Homo sapiens: one gene and its partners. The protein of the gene in region 1 interacts with the protein of each later gene in a pairwise test. Each region holds a gene or a part of one and is shown on either strand. Other genes may lie near its edges.

What was found.
Region 2: the proteins of CCDC180 (region 1) and PDGFRL interact in a two-hybrid assay, tested with the Homo sapiens proteins (one large-scale study listed by BioGRID and IntAct).
Region 3: the proteins of CCDC180 (region 1) and MLH3 interact in a two-hybrid assay, tested with the Homo sapiens proteins (one large-scale study listed by BioGRID and IntAct).
Region 4: the proteins of CCDC180 (region 1) and DLC1 interact in a two-hybrid assay, tested with the Homo sapiens proteins (one large-scale study listed by BioGRID and IntAct).

What each region holds. Positions count from the first base shown.
Region 1 is NC_000009.12:97,324,565-97,328,591, forward strand, and holds part of CCDC180 (coiled-coil domain-containing protein 180), read left to right. Parts: intron 1-454; coding exon 455-628; intron 629-1,989; coding exon 1,990-2,105; intron 2,106-3,455; coding exon 3,456-3,582; intron 3,583-4,027.
Region 2 is NC_000008.11:17,587,024-17,591,050, forward strand, and holds part of PDGFRL (platelet-derived growth factor receptor-like protein precursor), read left to right. Parts: intron 1-2,444; coding exon 2,445-2,742; intron 2,743-4,027.
Region 3 is NC_000014.9:75,030,663-75,034,689, reverse strand, and holds part of MLH3 (DNA mismatch repair protein Mlh3), read left to right. Parts: intron 1-1,199; coding exon 1,200-1,271; intron 1,272-2,510; coding exon 2,511-2,622; intron 2,623-3,974; coding exon of another isoform or gene 3,975-3,987; coding exon 3,988-4,027. UniProt on the Homo sapiens protein: Probably involved in the repair of mismatches in DNA.
Region 4 is NC_000008.11:13,098,764-13,102,790, reverse strand, and holds part of DLC1 (rho GTPase-activating protein 7), read left to right. Parts: coding exon 1-1; intron 2-2,020; coding exon 2,021-3,444; intron 3,445-4,027. UniProt on the Homo sapiens protein: Functions as a GTPase-activating protein for the small GTPases RHOA, RHOB, RHOC and CDC42, terminating their downstream signaling.

The DNA of each region.
Region 1 (4,027 bases):
GCATAAGACACGTACATTTTTTTAAAAGGTGGGTGGTGTGGAGGATTTCACAGCAGGTGTGGTGTTTGGCCCAGATGCCATGAGTGAGGGAACTCCACAGAAGGAAAGATGCCCAGGCCAGTGTTGCTGTGGCCTCCTGAGTGCCCAGCCTGGTTTTTAGGAATGGCCCAAACTCCATCTTCTTCCTGTCAGAGACTTTTGTGGAGCACAGGATATGTCTAGAGATGGGACTTGAGGGTCAGCAAGACCAAGGGCAGGGCCTTGGGCAGACCTGAAACGCTGCCCTAGGGAGGGAGGACCAAGAGCACAGGTGTGGCCTAGAAGTTGACCTTGAGGGACGGTGTCTGGGCAATACTGTTCAGTCGTTAGAGACAGGGGGTCCCACAGGTGGGCCCTCTTCTTGGCCCTGGGACTGTCAGCCCTTAAGTCCCTTCTCTGGGCTCTGCCACTGCAGAAATCCTTCGAGACTCTGGCAGATCAGACAGAGTGGCAGAGTTCACACCTCTTCAAGTATTTCCAGGAGGTGGTACAACTGTGGGAGGCACACCAGAGCGAGCTGTTGGTGCAGGAGCTGGAGCTGGAGAAGAGGATGGAGCAGCACCGGCAGAAGCACAGCCTGGAGAGCCAGGTGAGACCCACACCCGGGGCTCCATGTTTCACACCACAAACAGCAATGAACTCAAACAGATCCTTGACCCAAATGGAGAACCTTAAGCTATGAAATTTGTGCAGATGGGGACATTGAGGCTCACGTTGGTCATGGGATCAGATGGGAGTAGCAGAAATCTCCTGGAACCAAATGTGTCTCTAAGAGCATGCATGAGAGACAGACAGATGGTTCAAGTGAGGAGACGATTAAAGGATGGTATCACGAATCACACACTTTATTGCCATTGAAAGAGAATTTTTTCATAGGTTCACAATGCTTAAAGAGGGGGAGAATAACATGAACCAACCTCAAAAGGAATACATCCACAGGGAGTAGACAAGGTACTTTAGGCACATTGTGAGCTGCAAAGCTATTAAAGTCTAGTTGTTCAATAAGGATGGATGCAGGCTTCCATGGGAAGTCTAATAAAAGCTTCAGGTGTGCCTTTCTATGTGCGGTTTCTCAGGAGAAACTGGCTTGCAAGCGAACACAGTGGACATCTGTGATGGCACATAGGTCCCTGGAAGCCAGAGGGTAGTGCCGGTGCTGGTGGCATGGCTTCATAGCCCCAGTGCCTATCACAGCCTGAGCTCTCTCTCATTCAAAGAAGCCACTGACAGAGTGAAACCTGCCTCAGCCTAAGCTCTTGAAGTGTCAAACTCTTGAGTATTTCGAAGTCCAGTAGTTAAGGTTAACTCACATATGGGGGGCTGTTAAGGGTGACATCACATTCCCAAGGTGAGTGGGGGGAATAACTCCAAGTTCTCCTATATGGGGTCTGATAAGACATCACATTCTGAAAGAAAAAGGGGAAGACACTCCAAGTTCTTATTACAGACAAACATGTCATTCATGTAGCAAATTGTGCACGTGTTGGGAATCATTTCAAAGCTCCATAACTGGGGCAATCTCCTGCCTGCACAGGAGGTCAGCTGGCCCCTGCCTTGCCTGCTCTCACACAGTCCAGGAGGTGGGGGAACAAACTCAGCTTCTGATTTCAAGCACGACTGGTGAGAAGAAGAGCGAGGAGCAGGTGTAGTGCAGGCCTGACCAGGTGGGCGGGTGTGAGGGCCCTGTCTCCAGGGGGTCCCATCTGAGCTGGTTCCCTAGGGGTATGATGTGGGCAGGGAAGAACACTGCAGGCAGAGAAAAGTCTGGAGGGCTATAGTGGAGAGAGGGAGGGTGGTGGCAGATTGGGTACCCCATTTGTAGAAAGGAAGTCCTGGGTCTGCTGAGGCACCTGGGCCTCAGTTCCAGCAGCAGGGTCCCTGCAGGTCACTTACACTCTGTGAGCACTGGAGGTCACATCTGCTTCCTCTTGTTTTGGGGGTGGCTTCCAGGTGCAGGAGGCCCACCTCGATAGGCTCTTGGACCAACTGAGGCAGCAAAGTGACAAAGAAACACTGGCGTTTCACCTGGAAAAGGTCAAAGATTATCTGAAGAACATGAAATCCAGGTAGGCCAACCAGACTCCAGAAGGCAGGAAGGGATGGTCAGGAATTCATCTTCAAGGTCAAGGGCAGCCTGCCCAAGAGCCCAGGAGCCTGCCAGCTTAAGATGAAAATTGTGCCTCTCACTTTAGAAAGCATGTGGCCCTCTGCAGCTCTACTCTCAGCCAACAAAGAAGCTTCCAGGGAGAATTTTTTAAAGTTTTTGGAGGGAGGTTTCAAAGCAATGCAGCTTAAGTTCAAGAACATGGGGCCTTCTTTTAAAAATTTAAAGATGTGGATGGATCACCTGAGGACAGGAGTTCAAGACCAAGCTGGCCAACATGGTGAAACCCCACCTCTACTAAAAATACAAGAATTAGCCAGATGTGGTGGCAGGTCCCTGTAATCCCAGCTACTCAGGAGGCTGAGGCAGGAGAATCACTTGAACCCAGGAGACGGAGGTTGCAGTGAGAGGAGATCATGCCATTGCACTTCAGCCTGGGTGACAGAGTGAGACTCTGTCTCAAAAACAAAAAAAAATTTAAACATGTACATTCTTGTTAAAGGGGGAAAAAGAAGTTAACCACTGCAAACATATAGAGATTTTTTTCCCTCATTCCTGCCCACTTTTCCTTTTTTATGGGCATATACATTTATATATATGAATATATACACATACATAGTGTTTTTAAAATAAAGGTTGGATTATACCGTGCAAATTGTTCCATAACTACAGATATACTTCCTTTTTTAAATGCCTTGTAGCATTCATTAATGTAGATACTTCATAATGGTTTAGCAATCCCTCAATTGATTAGCTGTTTTCTATTGGTTCCAATTTCTCAATATGACAAGCAGTTCTCTGTGAACTTTCTTGCATCTTTGTGACTTTGTACAGCTGATTCTGTAAGGACTGTTCACAGAAATAGAACGACACTGCCAATTGATTGCAGTACTTAGATTCAGAAGGCAATTCTGATTACTTTAGGCAAGTACGTAACCCTATGAGCCTTGGTCTACTTCTCTGAGAAATAGAAGTCTGGACCTTGGGGCATTTGCGAGTTTGATGGAATAATGTAGGTACCGTCAAGTTCGAGGACAGCATTAAGACCAAAGACAGAGTTAGGACCCTGGACAGGGAAAGGGAGCTCATGTTACAAGCAGAAAAGTCTCTTGTGTGTGTTTTCCAAACTTTCTACAAAAAGTATGTATTTCTCGTATGATCAGAAAAATAGCATAGCCAAGGACTGCTGCTATAAAAGAGCAGCCACACAGCAGCTCTACACAGAGTTGTGTGCCAGATTGCAGCCCATCTCCTTGGGGTCAGGGGTGTGGTTCCTAGCTGGGGTCTCCTGTCTTACCTACCTACCTCCCAGGTATGAATGTTTTCACACCCTCCTGACAAAGGAAGTGATGGAGTACCCAGCGATCATGCTGAAAGAACTCAACTCCTACAGCTCTGCCCTCAGCCAATACTTCTTTGTGCGTGAAATCTTTGAACAGGTATGGAGAGGGTGATGATACACCCAGCCACTCATGAAGAAGCTAAGGGAGAGGCTGACTTCTTGTTATGATCTGCCTAGACTTTGAAAGCCATTCCTAATGCTGCAGAGTTCAAATCAATGCAAGAAGAAAGAAGCTGAAAGTGTCTCTAAAGAGACCATCTCTTTCTCAGTATAAAAGAGGCTGAAGGGTTCAGAATTCAGGGCTCAAGCCTGAATGGACTTATAATGAAAAGGTTAATTTATATGGTGCTTGGAATTCCATTTATCATACCTACCACTGCCACATAATTCTCCTAAAATATAGCTTTAACCCACCTACTCTCCTGCAAAATCCCTCCCCAACTGTGCAGCCCCCACCAAATCCAACTTACAGTCCCTAGATAACCACAAAGGCCCCACTCTCTCTGCTTCCCACCTTGACTCTCCCTCATCCAGCAGACTCA
Region 2 (4,027 bases), on another chromosome or scaffold:
AGTTAGGCTGAAGAGTCATATTCTTTTAAACAGTTAGACATGGGATTTGGGAGTCACTCAATTCCAATACCGTCTGGGTATCTGTGGGGACACTAGGCTGGCTCCTTTAGCTTTGCATCATTGCCATCAAACCACAGGCCAATTCTGTGGTCAGGCAGCTGGACCAGCTATACAGTTAGATCAGCTGGTGGGGCTATTTGGTCAAAAGGTCAAATTATTTTGCATAGATAATAGCAAATATTTGGATGCATAATCTCCAAAATCAGATAATCTCATGTTCCTGAGTAACATAGATACACAAGATGTGATAGCTTAGAAGGATCAGACAAGTAGCTCTGTTTGTCTAAATTCCATAGGATTTACAGATGGTTATTGTCATTTCTGGTAGCTTGAATTCCTGTTACATGATACACAGAATACCAAATTAGACCTTAATCCAGAGGTTCATTAATTTCACAGGCATTAAAGTATTTATGGGGCACAGATTTCTTGGGCATGATAATGGTGGGCTTTTCTTTCTTTCTTTCTTTCTTTTTTTGAGAGAGAGTCTTGCTCTGTCACCCAGACTGCAGTGCAGTGGTACAATCATAGCTCATCATAAACTCGGACTTGTGGGCTCAAGTCTCGGTCTCAGTCTCAGTCTCCAGGCATTGGAGTGCAGTGGTGTGATCTCGGCTCACTGTAACCTCCGCCTCCCGGGTTCAAGCAGTTCTTGTGCCTCAGCCTCCCGAGTGGTAGCTGGGATTACAGGCATGCGCCACCATGCCTGGCTAATTTTGTATTTTTAGTAGAGATGGGGTTTCGCCATGTTGCCCAGGCTGGTCTCAAACTTCTGACCTCAACTGATCCACCTGCGTTGGCCTCCCAAAATGCTGGGATTACAGGCATGAGCCACCACACCTGGCCTACAGTCCCCTATTCATTCTTGTTGAGTGGACACAACTGTGTGGCTGCAAGGGGCTTAGCTGAGATTTTTAGAGTCCGGTGGCCCACCACAGGCAGAACAGTGGGGGCACTCTTCCCTGGATGCAGGCAATAAGGGTGCCTTACTTATAGAGAAGGCAAAAATGACAACAAAAGCAACTTAAAGTCAGTTAGCTTTTTATTATCACTATTTGCCAGCAACTCTCAACAATGTTGGTGATAAAATACTCCTTCCCCAGAGACATTTTGTTGGTGAAATTCTAAATCGTTGCTACAGTTACAGTTGAGTTTTGATAATTTATATGTAAGCTTCAGATTAGTATACACATAATATTTACTCTTTAATAATAAGCATTTTATTCTACCTAGACATCGCCAGCCCCTGACAAATGTAATGTCTGCTTTACCATTTGTTTTGAGAGAAAGTTCACTGTGGTTCAAAATCTTGGCTGGGCAGAGTGGCTCACACCTATAATTGCAGCACTTTGGGAGGCCTACGTGGGAGGGTTGCTTGAGGCCAGGAGTTTGAGACCAGCTTGGGCAACATAGCAAGGCCCCATCTTTAAAAAAAAAAAATTAGCTCAGCATGGTCTCACATATGTGTAGGCCTAGCTACTCAGGAGGCTGAGGCAGGAGGATCACTTGAGCCCAGGAGTTCAAGGCTACAGTGAGCTAGGATCATGCCATTGCATTCCAGCCTGGGTGACAGAGTGAGATTCCGTTTCTAACGTTAAACACAAAATATTTTGCGTGCACTTTCAGCACAGTTTGTGTCCCCAGTCTCTGTGGAGCTACAGATTTCTGTGTTTAAACAGTAGAATCAAAATGAATGGTGACAACATATAGACTGCAAAGTAAACAAACAGCCTTGAATGGCTTCAGTTCTGCTGTTTTGTGTGACTGCTTGGAGACTATGAGACGGTGTGAACTACAGGCAGTAATATTTTTGTTTTCTAAGGGCAAATTTTAGCTCATACATGAACTGTTTTGCTGAATTTGAATAATATCTTTGGAGCTGAAATATTTTTTAATGTTTTAAAATTAATCAAAAGATGATAATTACATGACTTTTACTGAAAACAATATTGACATATGAGGAGGGGAGGATTAAAAAGTTATCTTCTCTAGAGTTACCTAAAAGCTATGAGGGCTGGGCATGGTGGCTCACTCCTGTAATCCCAGCACTTTGGGAGGCCAAGGCAGGTGGATCACCTGAGGTCAGGACTTCGAGACCAGCCTGACCAACGTGCTGAGACCCTGTCTCCATGTCTCTACTAAAAATACAAAAATGAGTTGGGTGTGGCGGCGGGCACCTGTAATCTCAGCTACTCAGGGTGCTCAGGCAAGAGAATCACTTGAACCTGGGAGGTGGAGGTTGCAGTGAGCTGAGATTATGCCACTGCCCTCCAACCTGGGCAATAGAGTAAGAATCTGTCTCAAAAAAAAAAAAAAGTTATTGGCCTCAAATATTCCAAAAATGTCATTACTACAGCGCATTTCTCTCTCCTTACGTTTTGCAGTTACTGGCCAACACCTTCCCAAGAACAAGCGTCCAAAAGAACCAGGAGAGAATAGAATCAAACCTACCAACAAGAAGGTGAAGCCCAAAATTCCTAAAATGAAGGACAGGGACTCAGCCAATTCAGCACCAAAGACGCAGTCTATCATGATGCAAGTGCTGGATAAAGGTCGCTTCCAGAAACCCGCCGCTACCCTGAGTCTGCTGGCGGGGCAAACTGTAGAGCTTCGATGTAAAGGGAGTAGAATTGGGTGGAGCTACCCTGCGTATCTGGACACCTTTAAGGATTCTCGCCTCAGGTAAGCATTTTTTTTTAAAACTGTGTAGGGTTGAGGATTTGTAATAGTTAACAAAATTCCTTCTTAACTATTATTACACATTGTTTCTGACATGTTCCATTTTACCCTAATAGATCATAAAAATAGAAGCTCAAAGGGCAAAAGTCACAGATTTTATTTCTTTACCCAGTTAATAACAATTGCAGGCCGGGTGCGGTGGCTCATGCCTGTAATCCCAGCACTTTGGGAGGCCGAGGTGGGCGGATCACGAGGTCAGGAGATCGAGGCTATCCTGGCTAACCCGGTGAAATCCCGTCTCTATTAAAAATACAGAAAATTAGCTGGGCGTGGTGGCAGGTGCCTGTAGTCCCAGCTACTCAGGAGGCTGAGGCAGGAGAATGGTGCGAACCTGGGAGGTGGAGCTTGCATTGAGCCGAGATAGTGCCAGTGCACTCCATCCAGCCTGGGTGACAGAGAGCGAGACTCCATCTCAAAAAAAAAAAAAAAAAAAATTGCAAATCCTACCAACATTTGCTGAAAGAGTGAAATTTTACAGGAAACCATGTGACAAAACCATATGACAATTTTCTATGAAAATGTATGATGTGTGGAATTTTATGGGAAACCAAAATGTTATAGAAAACTATTATGCATAGAGATGGATGTTTAAAAATTCATATTGTGTGGCCAGGTGCAGTGGCTCATGCCTGTAATCCCAGCCCTTTGGGAGGCCAAAGCAGGCAGATCACTTGAGGCCAGGAGTTGGAGATTAGCCTGGCCAACATGGTGAAACCCCGTCTCTACAAGAAATATAAATTAGCCAGATGTGGTAGCATGCACCTGCAATTCCAGTTACTCAGGCAGAGCTGAGGCAGAAGAGTCGCTTGAACCCGGGATGCAGAGGTTACAGTGAGCCGAGTTCGTACCACCGCACTCCAGCCTGGGTGACAGAGTGAAACTCCGTCTCAAAAAAATAAAAAAAAATCATACCGTGAAAGTTAATGGACTCAATGTTTTATGTTGTTTTTTTAAGTAATCATAATGAAAACTGAAATGACCTAACAGGAGATTTCTGTGAGCAACTTGACCAGATATCAACTTCAACTACTTTTCAACTGCTTCTCATTATTATTATTATTATTAATTTTTTTTTTTTGAGACGGAGTCTCGCTCTGTCCCACAGGTTGGAGTGCAGTGGTGCCATCTTGGCTCACTACAAGCTCCGCCTCCCGGGTTCACACCATTCTCCTGCCTCAGCCTCCCAAGTAGCTGGGACTACAGGTGCCTGCCACCACGCCTGGCTAAT
Region 3 (4,027 bases), on another chromosome or scaffold:
ATCTGGGCATCACCTCTTTCTGTACAGCCAGGGAGATGGGAATGGTTTTTACATTTTTTAATGGTTGGGAAAAAAAAAGAAGACTATTTCTTGACACATTAAAATTATATGAAATTAGTATTTCAGTGTCCATAAATAAAGTTTTATTGGAACACAGCTACGATATTCACATATTGTCTATGGCTGCTTTGGCTCAAAAAGAATTGTTGAGTAGGCATGACAGAAATCGTGTGGCCCAAAAAGCCTAAAATATTTATGATCTGGCCCTTCAGAAAACGTTCTCCGGCTTGTGATCTAAAGTGCACTGGAAGTACATTCTTTGTGGGTTTCCAAGTAGCTTGTACACCAAGGTTAGCTGATTATAACAATGTGTTGTTTAACGATCCTTTATCATATTAAAGTTGAATTAATAAGGCAAAATCAGTATTTAAACATAAGAATTATATATTCAAGCTTCAAACTTGAGGAAATGCCACTTTGACTTTTTTTTTTTTTTTTAAGATGGAGTCTCACTCTGTCACCAGGCTGGAGTGCAGTGGTGCAATCTCGGCTCACTGCAACCTACACCTCCTGGGTTCAAGCGATTCTCCTGCCTCAGCCTCCCAAGTAGCTGGAACTACAGGCGCGTGCCACCACACCCAGCTAATTTTTGTATTTTTAGTAGAGACAGGGTTTCACCATGTTGGCCAGGATGATCTCGATTTCTTGACCTCATGATCCGCCCGCCTCAGCCTCCCAGTGTGCTGGGATTACAGGTGTGAGACACTGCACCCAGCCCTGACTATGTTTTCTAAATGAGATGCTGGTGAACTAAAGAGTTTCTTAGTTTACCTTTTGTTTCCTAAAAAATGAAATTATGGGGAAAATAATAAAACTTATAGGATAAAAATTAGTAATACTGGTAATCTCTGGAGAGAGAAACTAGAAGGGGTGGGGGCAAGAGTATAAAGGAGACTTTATTAAATTCCCTTTTGTGCCTTTCAGAATTGGATCTGGGATTCAAACATATGGGATAAGTTTGCTATCATTTTCCCCATAATTTCATGTTTTAGGAAATAAAAGATACAATTGTTACTCCTCAGAATGTTTTGTCTTATGCTGTTGTTAGATAGTTTGAATTAAGTCTTCTCTGTCCTCAACACACATGATGGTTGTCGTCTTGCTCTGAGAATCAAAGTTCACAATCCTTGCTCATCTAGGTGGGAACCTGCTCGTGCTGGTGGATCAGCACGCTGCCCATGAGCGTATACGTCTGGAGCAGCTTATCATTGGTAAGGATCTGTTTGCAGCCAGAAAAAATTTGAGACTCCCAGCAGAATCAGTACACCTCAAAGAGCTTTTCTAACTGCAACTGTTGTGAGAAAGCACACTTTGTACTGTATGTTCAAAAATTAAACTAAAGTCCTGCAGTTTGGCCTGTGTTATAATTGAAAGAATGTGGTAGTTCACTAATTGAAAGATGTGAACTTATTTATGTGGTCAGAGGCATATTTGCCAGATGTTATTAACAACCCAGAAGTACGCAAGGATAGGCTGCTTACTCTGACATCCAGCACAAAGCTCTGCCCCTCCATATGCCCGGTGATCTTGGCATGCCTTCCCACACTCCATCAGGCAGAGACCAGTGGCAGCTCAGAAGGCCCAGTATGCTGTTTTGATTTTAAAATTTAGTTTGCTTTTGAATATGCAGTATAATCAAATAGATCCAATTCTGAAAGGCACAAAAGGGAATATAATAAAGTCTCCTTTCTATCCTTGTCCCCACCCCTCCTAGTTTCTCTCCCCAGAGACAACCAATATCTCTGGTTTTTAAATCTATCTTTCCAAAGCAATATATGCTTTTTAAATGTTTTTTTTTGCTACCCTTTTCCTCATCATGAGGCAGTGTGTTCACCAAGTGGTAAAATACCAGGAAAGTCTTTACTCCTGTGGCCAATGAGTAATGTCAAAGAGTTAGGCAAGGACCTAAGGAGTGCTTCATGGACTAGAATGGCAATGATATTACTACTGTTTTCACTTTTCCTTATAAAATGACGGCCTAAGAGTTGGGAAAGATATAGTAAAAACAGTGTTAGAAAAACTTACCTCTACAGGCCCTGCACCATTTGAGAATAGTACTAATTCTCTCCAGAGACTGGGAGACCCTGCTCAAGGAAAGGGAAGCCTTCTGGAGCCATAAGACTGTGTGGTCAACCCACATATGTTCCTGGTAATCCACATTATTCACCTCTGTCATCAAAACAACATTTATTAACTACAGGAACATTGGCTTGTTCATCTGAATGTAAGATGCAAGTCTTATATTTCTTATTTTGAAAAATACTACCAAAATTGTTAATAGGCTGAATATTTATTAGTTTGACTTTAAAAATGGAAATCCAAAATCTAAAACTGAACATTAAACATTCTGCTTTGCATTAGAATGATTATCTCAAGGCCGTGCTTTATTTTTATCTGAATCTAGAAGACTTCCCTTCCTACTCTTAACCCATTCATCTTTCTGCCAATAGATTCCTACGAGAAGCAACAGGCACAAGGCTCTGGTCGGAAAAAATTACTGTCTTCTACTCTAATTCCTCCGCTAGAGATAACAGTGACAGAGGAACAAAGGAGACTCTTATGGTCAGTACCACCATGAGAATGTGATGTTGATGGTATCAATTCTCACAATAATTCTGTGAGGAATAAGCATAACTATTGTTCCATTTCTCAGATGAGACCAAGAGAGGTTACAAGACTTGTCTAAGGTCATAGCAGTTATTAAGTAGTGGAGCAGGCACTCAAAGGCAGGTCGTCTGACTCCACAGGCTGTTTGTTTCCTTTTTTAAAATATATTTTTTTCTGCATCCAATCATCCATTAAAATATTTATTTTGTGAGACATGGTCTCACTCTGTTGTCCAGGCTGGAGTGCAGTGGCACAATCTCTGCTCACTGCAACCTCCACCTTCCAGGCTCAAGCAGTCCTCCCACTTCAGCCTCCCAAGTACCTGGAACTACAGGTGAGCACCACCATGCTGGACTAATTTTTGTAATTTTTTGGTAGAGATGGGTTTTCGCCATGTTACCCAGGCTGGTCTGAACTCCTAGGCTCAAGCGATCCTCCCACTTTGGCCTCCCAAAGTGCTGGGATTACAGGCGTGAGCCACTGGACCCAGCCTATTCTTTCCACTGTATCCCAGCTGAAGAGTATAGGATAGAGTTTCCCTGATAATTTTTTCCAGCAGTTGGCTTAGAACACTCTTCTCATTTCTTGGAACAGTCTGTGTTTATGCCATGCTTTGTGAAAGCAAAGTTTCTGCAGTAATTGGTCCCATTCTGCTTTGCTTTGGTGCATTCTAGACTCTTAGTTTTCATTATCGTAATCATAATGGGAAGAAAGTAAAACATTGGGATGTAAGGAAGGGGCGAATCATATAGTGAGTCACAAGATAGGATATTTTTCCTCTTCTAGGCAGCACAAATTATTGAAAATGAAAAAGAAATTTCTCCCAATATGTTTCAGGTTTGGGAATATGATACTGCCAGTAAATCTTTTTTTCCCTATGACATAATTTATATTAGAGGCAGATCTATTTACTTACATCCCGTTAGTCAGGACTTCTCAATTCCTTGGGCTGTTAATTACCTCCCTGCTTTAATGCTGATTCAAATCACTCTCAGACCTTTTCTTCATGCCAGACTCCCTTAAGTGCCAGCAGCCAGAAGTTAGCAGTTCCTCAATGAAGAAAACACACTTAGAAACAAGACTTAGACACAGATTGATTCCCAATGGAAAAGAGAAAAACAATAAAGGTTACTGTAATTCAAAAAGGAAATTTGATAATAAAAAATCCCAAACACCCACACATAAGTGTGAGAAAAACAATACGGTTGTTAAGCCCTGTGGCAGCTTTTGAAAAACTATTAAGTAGTATTTGGAACCAGTAGTGAAGTGCAAATGAAGTAGCACTCTTTTTTTTTTTAACATTTGAGGTTATCTCTTTAGGTGTTACCACAAAAATCTGGAAGATCTGGGCCTTGAATTT
Region 4 (4,027 bases), on another chromosome or scaffold:
AGTGAGTATACAAATTGCATAATAGAATGAGGGGGAAAAGGGGCAAACAAAAAAGTGAATGATGTGTTTTGTAATAGGTTTTGTTTCTCCAACTCTTAGTTTGTTGTTCCGTAAGCATCTACATCTTGAATGATATCGCCTAGACTTGATAGCCTTATGTAGTTGAAGCCAATAGTTGCAACTAGTCCATTACATTATTTTATCTATTGTTTTTGACCTGATCACATCAGCTATTATTTTGCCTAATTACTAACTCAATGCCTATTACATAATAAAGGGATCATGCTTAAGGAATCCCAGTGGATTTTTGCATTGCTCATAGAGGAAATAAACTGAGGTTTATTTCCAACTCTTCTGTCTTCCCAAATATAACAATAACTGTGCTTCAAAGCTGTAGAGATGAAAGCGAAGGCCGATTTGTGCAATATTGAAGAATAATAAGAGATTTGGAGGGAGGAAAGGAATTGGAAGAGGAAGAGGAGAAGGCAGGAGATCCCACACAGTTTAGTCAAATGGTGGTACACAACCGAGCTGGATGGTATTTTCTTCTGCGTGTGAGTTGTGAAGACTTTTTATGAGATCTTAGGAGAAGAGGTGGGTGTAGTACTGGGAGTAAGTGTCACAAATTAGAGTAAACAGGAATGAGTCTGGTCAAAGAACATATTTCTGACTTCCGGGTTCAAATTTTAATTATGCCAGAATCCCTGAGCTGCAAAAAGTTGCCTTCTTGGGGAGTCAAAGCTTTTAAACAAATGAACTGGAACCTCAGCGCCCACTGAGCTATGCAGAAGAGTCCTAGAAGCCAGCGCTCCATGCTTGCCACTCATTGTCCTGTGAAACTTGGGCCACAGGATATTTTCCACACCAGTGGAAAAGACATGTATCATACCGAATTGTGCCCTTTGATATCCTGCCGAAAAGGCCAAGATGCAATAGTCCGTGTGACAGCTTATCCCTGAGTCCTGTACATAAATCGGGCATAATCAGCAAAGACGTTCCTTAGTGTTTATGAATGCCGCGAGCTGTCAGGGCTGGGTATTTGTGAAGCCTTGTTCAATTGGCTGGAGCATGACTGAGGTTGAAACTTCACAGGTCAGCTGTGGCCTGAGCGCTAGCCTTCATGTCTTGTGGGGGAGGGGAAGAAAAGGTACTGGTAAGAGTCTCCAAAGCACTGATAGTGGACTGAATCTGCTTGATGACCCACCTTGATCCAGGGCCCCTTTACTCCAGTGGGAGACCTTATACATTTTTAGTGTCTAGAGATTTAAGTTGCCACTCTTCTTAGTGTTTGAAAACTACCTTTTTAATTGCAAGAGGGAATATAAACATACACCAACAAAAGACAGCACAATGGAAGGCAGCCCAGAGGCAGTCCTGCTCATTGCTGACTTCAGTTCAAAATATTTTGCATGCCTGGAATTTTCACCATCTCAGAGGTTTCCTCTATGAGCAATTAAAGAACAGCCTATGGATCCCAGAGTTTCCATAAAATAGTTCTTATTTAACTTGCAACATTTGGTCAGGCACTCTCCTGTTAAATTCTTTAAATACATCTTTGTTATTTAAAGAACAAAACAAAACACCGGGCACTGTGGCTCATGCCTGTAATCCCAACACTTTGGGAAGCCCACGTGGGAGGATCGCTTGAGGCCAGGAGTTTGAGACCAGCCTAGGCAGCATAGTAAGACTACTGCTCTCTACAAAAAATTTAAAAAAGAAAAAGAATATGTAAGTGGGGCTGGGCACAGTAGCTTATCCCTGTCACCGCAGCACTTTGGGAGGCTCAGGTGGGAGGATCACTTGAGGTCAGCAGTTCAGAATCAGCCTGGGCAATACAGCCTGTACAACAGAGTGAGACCCTATTTTTAAAAAAAAAAAAAAAAAAACTTTAAAATTAAAATCATGAAGTACAAGGGGGAAATTGATACTACTGGCATATTATGAGCAGCCTCCTGCTCATGCCCTGCTCCCTGCTGGCTGCCAGCCCCAGTGTGTGAATGGCTCCTTTCTGTCTTTGCAGAGTGACGATTCAGACGAGGATGAGCCTTGTGCCATCAGTGGCAAATGGACTTTCCAAAGGGACAGCAAGAGGTGGTCCCGGCTTGAAGAGTTTGATGTCTTTTCTCCAAAACAAGACCTGGTCCCTGGGTCCCCAGACGACTCCCACCCGAAGGACGGCCCCAGCCCCGGAGGCACGCTGATGGACCTCAGCGAGCGCCAGGAGGTGTCTTCCGTCCGCAGCCTCAGCAGCACTGGCAGCCTCCCCAGCCACGCGCCCCCCAGCGAGGATGCTGCCACCCCCCGGACTAACTCCGTCATCAGCGTTTGCTCCTCCAGCAACTTGGCAGGCAATGACGACTCTTTCGGCAGCCTGCCCTCTCCCAAGGAACTGTCCAGCTTCAGCTTCAGCATGAAAGGCCACGAAAAAACTGCCAAGTCCAAGACGCGCAGTCTGCTGAAACGGATGGAGAGCCTGAAGCTCAAGAGCTCCCATCACAGCAAGCACAAAGCGCCCTCAAAGCTGGGGTTGATCATCAGCGGGCCCATCTTGCAAGAGGGGATGGATGAGGAGAAGCTGAAGCAGCTCAACTGCGTGGAGATCTCCGCCCTCAATGGCAACCGCATCAACGTCCCCATGGTACGAAAGAGGAGCGTTTCCAACTCCACGCAGACCAGCAGCAGCAGCAGCCAGTCGGAGACCAGCAGCGCGGTCAGCACGCCCAGCCCTGTTACGAGGACCCGGAGCCTCAGTGCGTGCAACAAGCGGGTGGGCATGTACTTAGAGGGCTTCGATCCTTTCAATCAGTCAACATTTAACAACGTGGTGGAGCAGAACTTTAAGAACCGCGAGAGCTACCCAGAGGACACGGTGTTCTACATCCCTGAAGATCACAAGCCTGGCACTTTCCCCAAAGCTCTCACCAATGGCAGTTTCTCCCCCTCGGGGAATAACGGCTCTGTGAACTGGAGGACGGGAAGCTTCCACGGCCCTGGCCACATCAGCCTCAGGAGGGAAAACAGTAGCGACAGCCCCAAGGAACTGAAGAGACGCAATTCTTCCAGCTCCATGAGCAGCCGCCTGAGCATCTACGACAACGTGCCGGGCTCCATCCTCTACTCCAGTTCAGGGGACCTGGCGGATCTGGAGAACGAGGACATCTTCCCCGAGCTGGACGACATCCTCTACCACGTGAAGGGGATGCAGCGGATAGTCAATCAGTGGTCGGAGAAGTTTTCTGATGAGGGAGATTCGGACTCAGCCCTGGACTCGGTCTCTCCCTGCCCGTCCTCTCCAAAACAGATACACCTGGATGTGGACAACGACCGAACCACACCCAGCGACCTGGACAGCACAGGCAACTCCCTGAATGAACCGGAAGAGCCCTCCGAGATCCCGGAAAGAAGGGATTCTGGGGTTGGGGCTTCCCTAACCAGGTCCAACAGGTAAGAACTTTTCTCCTGCCTCCGGGTGTGGGGCACTGGGGGTCAGAAAGACATTGCCTGTGCTTGTTCTGTGGGAAGAAATGGGATTAAGTCTGGCATTCTTAGCCATGTCCATTCCTAAGGAAGGTGTCAAACCAGGAAGCACCAAAATTCAAAGAAATCGATAGGATTGAATGGGTATAGAGTTCCGGTTGGGGAAGATGAAAAAAGTTCTGGAGATGGTTGGCAGAGATGGTCACACAATGAGAATGAACTTGGTGCCACTCAACTGCACATTTAAAAATGGTGAAAATGGTGCACTTTATATTGTGTATATTTTCCCATAATGGGGATTAAAGCATGGGATAGAAATCAAGTCCTATCAGTTCCTAAGATAAGATGCCAGCAAGCAGCCCATTGCTAATGTTGCTTCTACCTATTAAAAAGCCTTTGGGCCAGGCACAGTGGCTCACACTTGTAATCCAATACTTTGGGAGGCCGAGGTGGGAGGATCACTTGAGGCCAAGAGTTTGAGACCAAGCTGGACAACATAGGGAGACTCTATCTCTACAAAAAATTAAAAAATGAGTCAGATGTGGTGGCA